Linked DNA regions of Homo sapiens: region 2 is linked to region 1. Evidence: fine-mapped expression QTL. A gene starts in region 1. The other region holds a variant in brackets. All regions are shown on one strand. Distances are between the middles of the regions. Region 1 holds the start of PREX1 (phosphatidylinositol-3,4,5-trisphosphate dependent Rac exchange factor 1). Region 2 overlaps PREX1 (phosphatidylinositol-3,4,5-trisphosphate dependent Rac exchange factor 1).

Region 1 (5,366 bases):
GCTTACTCTGTTGTCCAGGTTGGAGTGCAGTGGTGTGATCACAGCTTACTTGCAGCCCTGACCTCCTGGGCTCAAGCAAGCTCCCCACCTCAGCCCAGCAGCTGGTACTACAGGTGTGTGCCACCATGCCCAGCTAATTTTTAAAATTTTTTTGTAGAGACAGGGTCTTGCTATGTTGCCCAGGCTGGTCTTGAACTTCTGGGATCAAACAATCCTCCCACTTGGACCTCCTAAAATTCTGGGATTAGAGGCCGGAGCCACTGTGCCCAGCCTGGAGACATTTTTGATTCTCAGATTGGGGAGGGAGTGCTACTGGCATCTAGTGGGTAGGGGACGCGGCTAAATGTCCTGAAATGCACAGGACACGCCCCTCCCCCAACAAAGAGTTATGTGACTCCAAATGTCAATAGTCCCAAGGTTGAGAAAGTCTGTATTGCATAGAATTCGCTCTCACAAAGACTCCCCTTTTACAGATTAGACGACTGAGGCCCAGAGAAATAACGTGTCTTGGCCAAGGTTACCCTGCCAGTTGGATTTGGACTGGGATACAAATGCAAGCCCGCTTCATTCCATGGTCCATTATGTTCCAGCCATGTTCTCCCCTCGTGGTAGACAGAATTAATTTAAAGATGAGGAAACGGAGGCTCAGAAAGGTACCGTGAACAGTTTAAAGTCACAAAGCAGAGATACTCCAGAGGCCTTTATTAGGAATAAAAATATAAATAAAAAACCAGCTACCTTTGGACACAATTGACTCCACTACCCAAGCGTGACAGGCTCACCTATCTCATGTCCTTTACTCCCTGCCCAGGGGAACTTCACTCAGCCCAAGGCCCAGATCAAATGCTACCTTGCCCATGATCCCAAAGAAAGAAGTCAGAGAGGGCAGAAGCCACCCCATTCTCTCCCTGTGTCCTTAGGCACTTACAGTATTGAGAGGCCAATGGGAGGAAAATCCTAGGCTTTTGGAACAGGAATAAATAAGCAATGTTTCTGTCCATAAAATGACTACAGTCTAGAGGCGGATACTATGTGGATCACTTTATCCCCTGCAGAGACGATACAATCTCTGGTCCGGAAACACGGGTGATTAGGGATTGTATGGGCCATTTGAGAGTGGGGCCAGGCTTAGAGGGCCGTTCACACATGCAATAATAGTAAGAACAAACATTTACAGAGAACTTTCTAGGTGTTGGGCTTCACACATGCAATAATAGTAAGAACAAACATTTACAGAGAACTTTCTAGGTGCTAAGTACTTCCCATGGAACCCCGGGGAGGACCTTGGAGCTAGGTACCATGATCGTTCCCGTTATACTGATGAAAACACTGAGGATCTTGAAGCAAGGAAACCAGCCCAAGGCCACCCGGCCAGCAAGTGGGGAGCTAGGATTTGAACCTGAGCAGCTGACTCTAGGCCCCAGAACTTCCTCCCCTCTCCATACCTTCCGATAAGGCGGGTGATGATCAACATTGCCCAGAGCAACCTGACAAGAAGCTGGGTTTCCCAAGGCCTTATCCCATGGGGTGGGTGGATGGAAGGGGGAGCAGGCAGGGTACCTGCCACTTGATCAATAACTCAAGAGCAGGTAATAATTTCTTCTGGGAAAGGTGGAAAGGGCAGGGTCAGGGGGCAAAGAAGTTCAGAAAGAAAAGGAAGGAAGGAAAGAGAGAGATGGGAAAGGAAACGGGAAAGAGAAAAGTGAGAGCGAGCGCGCGCCACGCATGTTCCTTCCCAAGGTCGTGGTAGCACCGAGGGCACCGCGAGGGCCCGGCGTTCCCGGGAGGGGCCGTCACTGCCCAGAGAGGGGCCGTCACTGCCCAGGCAGCGGTCGCCCCTGACTTCCCGGGGCCGCGGAGGCGCGCGTGGCGGGGCTGGCTTGCCCCCGAGCGGCTCCGCAGCGAGCTTTCCCAGCCCGGTGTTTACTTGGCCCGAGCAGCGGCCGGACCTGCAAGCAGGAGCCTGCGCGCGGCGGGTGTCGCGTGTGCCGGGTGGGAGTGGCGTAGCCCGCGGTGACTGCGGGTTGGGGGGGCGCCACGCGTCCGGGCGCGGAGTTGGTACGCTCGGTTCGGCGTGCGCGCGGCCTCGGACTCCCGGCTCCGCGGGGCCCTTCCGGAGGCTCCCGCCCGACCCCCGAGCTTCCGACGGAGGCGCCGAGCGCCGCGCCGCGTCCCCAGGGGCCCCGTGCACGCGCAGAGCGCCTCTGCGGCCGAGCGCGGCGTGGCACTTGGCAGACGGTCCCTGGCGCGGGGGCGGGGGGCCAGCCGTCTGGGAGCCCCGAGGGCCGCCCCCTCCCGCCCCTCGCCCGGCCCCCGCGCGCTGCCTCCGCCCCCGGCCCAGCCGCCCGGCCCCCAGTCCCGCCCGCCGCGCCGGGAGCCCGGCCCGCCGCTGAGCCCGGCCCGCCGGCGCGCCCCGTCCGGGATGGGGCGCCTGGACGCCTGAGTTGCCGCTCGGCGCGACGGAAGGAGCCGGCGCCGCGCGGCCGCGCTAGAATGGAGGCGCCCAGCGGCAGCGAGCCCGGCGGCGACGGGGCCGGGGACTGCGCCCACCCGGACCCCCGGGCCCCTGGCGCCGCGGCGCCCAGCTCCGGCCCCGGCCCGTGCGCGGCCGCCCGGGAGTCCGAGCGCCAGCTGCGCCTCCGCCTCTGCGTCCTCAACGAGATCTTGGGCACCGAGAGGGACTACGTGGGCACCTTGCGCTTCTTGCAGTCGGTGAGTGTCGCTCGGGAGCTTGGGGACAGCTTTCCCTCCAGCCGCTCGCCCCGCTGCGGTCCCCACAACCTGTGGCCGTGGTCCCCGTGGGTGGAGAATTGCCTCGGGGGCGCCCCGCAGGGCGCGCGGAAAGCGGGGGGGATCCGAGCTCCTCCAGAGCTGTCGCGTCGCCTCCCTCCCTGGCCGGCGCACGGTCCTGCTCCGACCGGGGCTCTCCCGCACTCCACTTCCCCGCGGCGCGCGCTGCCCTTTTGTCTTTTCTTCCCCGTCCCCGCCTTTCAAATAGTTTTAAAATTAGTTACATCCGCGATGCAGGGGCTTGGGGACCCCGGCGGCGCCGGGAGCTGGCGCTCCTGCGTCTTTTTCCCAGGAATAACTACGCGCCCGGTGCACCACTCATCTAGGACATACCGTAGGAGCCCCAGAGCCCAACGTCCCTGCGCGTTGATGGAGTAGGATAAAACCTGAAGCTCAGAGGAGGGGCGGGGATTGACAGAACCCCAGGGTAGAATCCCCCATGCACAGGTTTTTGCTGGAGTTCGGGGAGAGTGGGTTTCGAACTCAAAACTCGGCAGTCCAGGCTCCCTAACTGCATCCACCCCCACCAACTCCCCATCTCCAAGTGCAAAACCACGGCCTCAGACTTTGTAAAATAACAACCGACCACTTACTATGTGCCAGACACCTTACATGTGTCATTAATTAGCAGGTTTAACCTTCACAGGCGGTCTATGAAGTAGGGACGAGTATTTCCCCCATTTTTAATTAAAAAAATTTTTTTTTGAGACGGAGTCTCCCTCAGTCACCCAGGCTGGAGTACAGTGGCGCAATCTCGGTTCACTGCAACCTCCGCCTCCCGGGTTCAAGCAATTCTCTTGCCTCAGCCTCCCGAGTAGCTGGGATTACAGGCACGCGCCAGCCACCACGGCCGACTAATTTTTGTATTTTTATCAGAGAGGGGATTTCACCATGTTGGCCATGCTGGTCTTGGACTCCTGGCCTCAAGTGATCCGCCGACCTCGGCCTCCAAAGTGCAGGGATTACAGGCGTGAGCTACTGGGTCCTGCCTCCTCCGTTTTTAAGATTGGGAAAGTTTAGCTCCAGAGGGGCCGGGTAGCTTGTCTGGGATCGCACAGCTGATTAAGTGGGGGTACTGGGCTTTGAACCGGGACTATCCCAGCTGGTGTTCTAAACCCCTATTCTATGCTGCATTTTTCTTTTGCTTTTTTTCTGTGAGAGGGAGGAAGGGGCCACTTCCCTACTCTCCTAGGAAGTGAGAAAAGTGGCCAGCGGGTGGAGGGGGTGGGACGGGGCAGAGCCTTGGATGGAAGTTAGGAGACTCTAAAGTCTTTAATCTCCATGCCTCCTGCTGGGGCCTCATTTACTCCCCTTCTCTGCTCTAGGAAGTCTTTTAATCCTGGTTCAGGAAGGGCTGGTGTGGGGGTGGCTCTTTCAAAGACCCTAGAGCCAGGCTTTGTAGCTCCTAGTCTTTGGGAGAAAGAGGGAGACTCTGGGGTCCTCTGGGGCTCCTCATGGCTTAGGGGTGCAGCTGAGGCTGTGTGAGATCAGAGTTCCAGCTCAGGGAGGAGACAGCCTTAGACTAGAGCCCTTCTGCCTGTGAAAGGAGATGTACTGGGGGCAGGGGGATGTGGGAGAGGGGGTTGTGCAGAAGCATTGAAAACCATTTGGCTAAAGGACCCTTCTAGGAAGGCCTGTAAGAATAAGGCAGGATTGGCTTTCTTTCCCATCCCTTCTTCTCTCACAGTTTCGGGGGTGGGGGGTGGGGGAAGAATTTGTTCTGTTAGAAGCTGGCAGTTTTTGAATTAAACATGTAGACAACCCTGGTGTCTCTGAGCAATGTCAAATTCTAGGGAACTCCTGACTTCTCCTTCTGAGCCACTCCATGCTCCTCTGCTTGGAAGAGAAACAGGAAATACAAACCAATTTTGATATTAATGGGAAAGAAAATATACCTCTCCCTCCCACGCCCCTGCCCTAGATGGTGTGTTTCATTTTAGAACAGATCTAGATTGTGTTTGAGTTAACTGTGGTTTTAAATCGTCCACGTGTAGAGTAGGAGGAAGCTGGAATAATGGAAATTGATTGGAGCCAACCATTCTTATTATTCAAGAAACAGGAAAAAAAAAGATTTCTCTACTTTCACATTATCTCCTTAACACTTTACATTTGCTGACTTCATCACATTTTTCTTTTTGTATCTGATGTGTCAGTTCTGAGATGAATTGGTTCTGACTTGGACATGTGTCTTGGACCAATCATGCTACGTGTCCTGACCTCAGTTTCCCCACCTGTGAAACAAGGAGCGGGGAATCCGGGCTTCCTTTCTGCCTGGGCCTTTTGTGTGTCCCCAAGCTGGTGCCAGAAACAGACGGATTGTGTAACCTGACCAGCCATACGTTGTTTGTGAGCCACAGGAGTCCTCTCTCATCTTGGCCCGTCAGGAATGGCCCCTAAACATCCCAAGGCATTTTCGTTTTCAAAACTAACCTGGGGCTTAGAGCTTCAGGAACTGCTAATTACCAAGGCTTTCCATGGTTGCAAGGCTGGCAGCCTCAGGTTGTGATTCTCTTCTGTCTTCCCACTCTCTCTTCTCAGCCTTTATATTTGCTAAGGGATTTTCCCTGCTGTCTCCT
Region 2 (5,366 bases), 200 kb after region 1:
TTGGAAGGTTAGACCTGAAATATATGGTCAACACTGACTGCCAGCTTGTAGGGCAGTGGGGAGCCACAGAGGGTTCTTGAGCAGAGGTTATAGAAGATTGAATTGCATTGTTATCCCCAGAGGGGTGAGCTGGGAGGCAGCTGCAGGAACAGCTGGATTAGAAGGATATGGTGGGGGAGGAGGGCCAGATGGGGGCTGAGGGGCTGTGAGGACCTCCTCCAACTCCCCGGTTATGTGTGGTACCCCCTACAGCTGATCCGCCCCATCAATGCCCTGGATGAGCTCTGCCGCCTCATGAAGTCCTTTGTCCACCCAAAGCCTGGTGCTGCTGGGAGTGTGGGCGCCGGCCTCATCCCCATCTCCTCGGAGCTCTGCTACCGCCTGGGGGCCTGCCAGATGGTCATGTGTGGCACAGGCATGCAGAGGTGAGCTGCTGCCCGCTGAGTCGGGGTGTGGGGAGGGGCTGGCCTAGCTTCTGGTCAGTTTGGGGTCCTGTGGCAAGGAGGCAGGAAGGCTGGGTTCCAATCCTGGTTCTGCCATTGCCTGTAGAGCCTTGGCTCTGTCTGCACCTCAGTTTGTCTGTCTGTGAAACGGAATGGCAGCAGCAGGTGGTCCTAGCAGGGCTGTGGAGCCACCTGCTTCTCTAACGCCGTAGTGAGTGTGTGTGAGAGCTGTGCCCTGTAGTTCCGCCGGAAGCCTCCTTCAACATTAACAATAGCAATGGCTGGTTTATGGGGCCTGCTGACCTCACTGGAGGCTCCCCTGCCTCCTACCTCCATCCTTTGTCCCCAGTGCTCATCCCAGGGAGGAAGAGGTCACCTTCTCCAGAGTGCTTCCTGACCTTCCGTTACAAACTGTGCCCACTCTCCCCACTCAGTGCCCTCCCAACCCTCTCTTCCTCTGCAGCCCTCACCCCCACTCCCCAGACAGCCTTCATTGGGGTATTTATTTCCTCCTTGGCTCCCTCAGGGCAGGGCTGGATCTGGGAGGGCAGGGGCCCCTTTTGTTCTCTGCTGTTCCCCAGAGGCTAGAGCAGTGCCTGGCCTGAGACAGGTGCTCAAGAAACATTTGCTGAATAAATGTTTCACGGGGCCAGTGCTCTCTGCCTCCTAGGTCATTGACGTTCCATGCAGATTAACTCCTTTCCGTCTTTCTCTACCAGTGCAGTAGTGGGGCCTATTTTAGGGGATCTCACCTAGGGGCAGTTTTATCCCCGGGGAACATTTGGCAATGTCTGGACACATTTTTGGTTGTCACAACTTAGGGGAGGGAGGAGCTCCTGGCCTTTAGTGGGTAGAGGCCGGGATGCTGCTCAGCTTCCTGTGGTTCCCAGGACAGCCCCTCCAGCTGGGCCAGGTCCTCTGTGCACCACCATGCTCCCTGTTTCATAGTTAATAGTATAGGGAGGCTGAGGTTAACTCAGCTACCCAGGGTCACAGAGGAGTTACATGGAGGGACAGGATTGGAATCCTAGAGGTCTTGCTGCAGAATCCACGTTCTAGAACTGTTGAGAAACCCAGAGAGGTGTGAATCGATGTGTCCATCTCAAACCCCACGGAGCCGACAAGTCGTGAGGCTCCCAGGGAGTCCCCCACTCACTCAGCAGATATTTACCGAGTCCTCCTCTGAGCGAGGCACTGGGAATGTCACAGGGAACTCAACAGGGCTTCTGCAGACGGGGAAGCACCAGAGTGCCTGCCAGTGAGGGTGGTGGCTGCCTGGAGGAAGAGGAGCAAGCGGGGAGGGACGGCAGGAGGAGGCGTTGCCGTGATGGTCAGGATTGGGTCTGGGAGGCCTCGGAGGGACAGGAAGTTGCCCCAGCTCTCACCCACTGTCCTCTGACTCCCGCTGTCCTCCCCCGACCCCTGTCCCCCCACCGCCAACCCGCTGTCCTCCCTCCCCTGCTGCAGGAGCACCCTGAGCGTGTCCCTGGAGCAGGCGGCCATCTTGGCACGGAGCCACGGGTTGCTGCCCAAGTGCATCATGCAGGCCACGGACATCATGCGGAAGCAGGTGAGGCCGCTTGGCCACAGGGTCCTCCAGCACCCTGGGCTGAGGGCGTGGCATGCTTGCAGCCAGGGTGGGATGAGGGGCTGGTAGCCACCAGCCCCAGACCTGAGCCTTCTCTGAATCTGGAGGGGAGCAAGGATCTTAGCTTCTGGGTCCTTGGGCTTCTGGGCCCCACCCCCACCCCCCAGTGTGCTTCCTCACGTGCCCTGAACCTGCAGAGGCCCCTGCCTGATGGTTCCTTCTTCCAGGGCCCAAGGGTGGAGATTCTGGCCAAAAACCTGCGAGTCAAGGACCAGATGCCCCAGGGTGCTCCGCGGTGAGTGGCTGCCTCGTCCGCCCCTTCCTGTCCACTCCCAGCTGGCGACCCAGGCCTGGCTTTGGCATCATGCTCCTGGCCTAACCCCTAATGCTCAGATGGGGCTTCCCCTCTCATTTATGGGGAACCTCTTTGAGGAGCAACAGACACAACTTTGTCACCTCCCAAAGGAGCTCCTGCTCCCACCGGGAAGATGAGCCCCCAGGTGTGCCGTGAGGCGGTGACTCTATGAGATCCTCCCACCTCACTACACTGTGCCCTCAGCCCCATGCCCTCTCAGCCCTGAGCCCCCGCCCCGTGCCCTCCACCCTGTGTCCCATGCCATGTGCCCCCCACCCCGTGCCCCCTACCCTGAGTCCCTGACCCCTGAGCGGCTCGCTTTAACCTGGGGTGGAATTAAGAATTCTGTGATTTTAGCTGATCCAACCTAAGCTAACCTTTTAGCCATTTACAGAAATGCGAACTGAACAGCAGCCTGGGCCCAGGCCTGCGATGCCTGATTTGCAGGAATGCTCTCTGTTCCTGCCGTCTTTGGCATGGGGAGTGCTGTTTCCTCCTGTCCTCCCACCCTGCCCTCTCTTCATGTGGTTTTCAGTCTTCCTCTTGGTGCCACATGTAGGCCCTTTAGGATCATGACGTTGTTTCCGTCTGATCCTCTCTCCATCTCCACAGCCCTAGTTTGCTGTCGTCATCTGCCCACAAGTTTTAAATAACTCTTGTTTTGAAATAATGTGACTCCCAAGAAGTTGTAAAAATAGTCCACAGTTCCATGGACCCTTCAGGCAGCTCCCCGCCAGCGGCAACGTCTTACGTAACCA[CA/A]GAGCGCCGGCAACACCTGCTGCCAGTGGTGACGAGAGTCACTGTGCGTGCTGTGGCGCTGGGGGCTCCACACACACCTTGTTTGTGTCTCACGAGTGGCACGTGGTTCCTTTCAATACCTTCACGGCCTTTGCCCTGTGCCACGCACTGTCCAATTGCTTCCCCTCTGTGGACTCATTAATCCAAACAGCTGCCCTGTGAGCCAAGTCCGGCTGTCATCCCCACTTGGCAGGTGGGGACGCTAAGGCACAGAGAGGTTAAGTATCTTGTCCAATGTCACACAGCTAGTAAATGGAAAAGCTGGGATTCTGAACCCAGGCAGTCTGGGCGTGGAGTCCGAGCGCTGACCACATCAGACCACATGTGCAGCATTGCAGTCTGCTTGCCCTGGACACCACGCAGCCTCCTGTCTGGTCCCCCGGCTCCAAAACCATCTCTGCATATAGAGTTTCCCAGGATAGAGCAAGTGAAACTGCGTAAGGGGCAGAGTGCTGTGGCCATCTGGCCCCCACTAGTGTGGAATGTGCACCCCACCCCCACATGGCTGAACGCACACGTGCACCTGTAGACACGTCTTCATTTGTAAATGCCAGTCTCTGAGTGGGCAGAGACTGCCTGTGGGTAGGGGCCTGGCAGTCAGCAGAAGGCATGGACAGCATAGATATTTTTCTCTGCATCTTTTATATACCTGTGAGTTTGGGTTTCTGGGCATGAATTACATGTTCAGGTAAAAATGGAAATAATACAAATAGGTCCTGGCCCGCCCCGGCCTCTCCTCATTCTCTTTGCCTCCATCCCCAGCCTCTACCGCCTCTGCCAGCCGCCGGTGGATGGGGACCTCTGAACACCCAAATGCCCCACGCTGGGCCGCGGCCTCTGGAGCTGGGATTTGGGAGGACACAGCAGGCAGCGCTGGCCTTCTCCAGGGATGGCCCAAGGCTTCCGCAGCCGCCCGTTCCGGGACCTGCCCAGCGTCCTCCCTGCCTCCTTCCGGGACAAGCCTGGCCACCCTCGCTGTGATGACGAGCTGGCTGATTGGCCCTGGGCCGGCCCATTCTTCACACGCCTGCCAGAAGCTGGAGGGGTGCTGGAGACCCATAGAGCTGATGGGAGCAGCTGGTGCCTGGCCTTCGGCTCCTGCGTCCCCAGAACCCAAGGGAACGTCATGGAGGCCACATGGGGCCACCCGGCTCCCTCGGGATGGCTCCGCCTGCACTTTTGAAACCCCGGTTTCCTTCAACGTCCACATTCCAGGTGACCACACGTGTCTCCTCCTCCTCATCTTAGCTTCCAGGTTCACCCTAACCCTGTACTAACCTGCTTGGTGGACTTGGAAAAGACTTGGCTCTGTCGGGAAAGGAGAGACGGGGCCTCCATCACGCCTGTTACCAGAGGATCCCCGAGAGCCACACCAGCTCTGGACATCACCGCCCCTGGAACTGGGGCCACCAGCCCTGGGCACGAGATTTGCTCTGACTTTATTTATATGGCATGAAATCTCTGGTTTATTTTGGGATTTTTTGTTGTTGGTGTTGTCAAAGTTTGTTTTTTCTAAAGTTGTGTGATTATATATTTGACATTTTACATTTCAAAGAAAGGTATGTTGTCTAACAGGGGACCAACAGAAGGTAGTATTGACAACTGTTCCTGCTTCTACTAAAAAAAAAAGAGCACAAAAGAAAAACTAAATTATTGAAAAATTAAAAAATGTCATTGTTTCCTGTTTGTTAATATTAGGGTTGTAAGGTGTCGTTTTGAGGTATCGACTGTGATTCCTTCCCCCACCCTCCATTCTCCAGCGGTTGGCCGGTGTTAGAACTCGCTCTCTTTGAGTGACTGGCTACAAGGGCCTGAGAGGTGGCCAGCCAGGGTTGGAGCTGGAGGGGATGGAGCCCCACCTGAGGTGCCGTGTCACACGGGTTAGAGGGTCACTGGGAAACACCGGGCGGTGGCTTCTGTGATTTATTTTCTTGATGGTAACTTCTCAGAGCAGGGCGATTGGGACATCACCAGCCAGAGCACAGGAAGCCACCCTGCCTGCTGGGGAGGAGGGACCCACACAAGCCCCCTCGGCAGTTTGTCCCCCCAGCTTCGGTATGCCTTCAGGGAAAGGTCACAGCTGGGGAGGAAGCGGGGGGACGCCTGTCACCCCTGGCAGGTGGTGAGTTCAGGTGGGGGCTCCCTGCTGCCCCCAGGCCTGGGAGCTTGAAGCCCTCCCGGC

The links.
Region 2: its variant is fine-mapped to the expression of PREX1 in whole blood (INTERVAL, PIP above 0.99).

What each region holds. Positions count from the first base shown.
Region 1 is chr20:48,824,988-48,830,353 of GRCh38, reverse strand. PREX1 (phosphatidylinositol-3,4,5-trisphosphate dependent Rac exchange factor 1) reads left to right here and starts at 2,355. Exons shown (of 40, transcript NM_020820.4): 1 at 2,355-2,712. The coding sequence starts at 2,494. RefSeq lists silencers at 1,702-2,381, 2,792-2,861.
Region 2 is chr20:48,624,508-48,629,873 of GRCh38, reverse strand. It overlaps PREX1 (phosphatidylinositol-3,4,5-trisphosphate dependent Rac exchange factor 1), which reads left to right. Exons shown (of 40, transcript NM_020820.4): 37 at 253-425; 38 at 1,911-2,013; 39 at 2,259-2,326; 40 at 3,947-5,366. The coding sequence ends at 3,989. Among named protein-coding and RNA genes, the nearest start is that of PREX1, 200 kb to the left of the region's middle. The variant CA/A (reference allele first, on the strand shown) is at 3,145.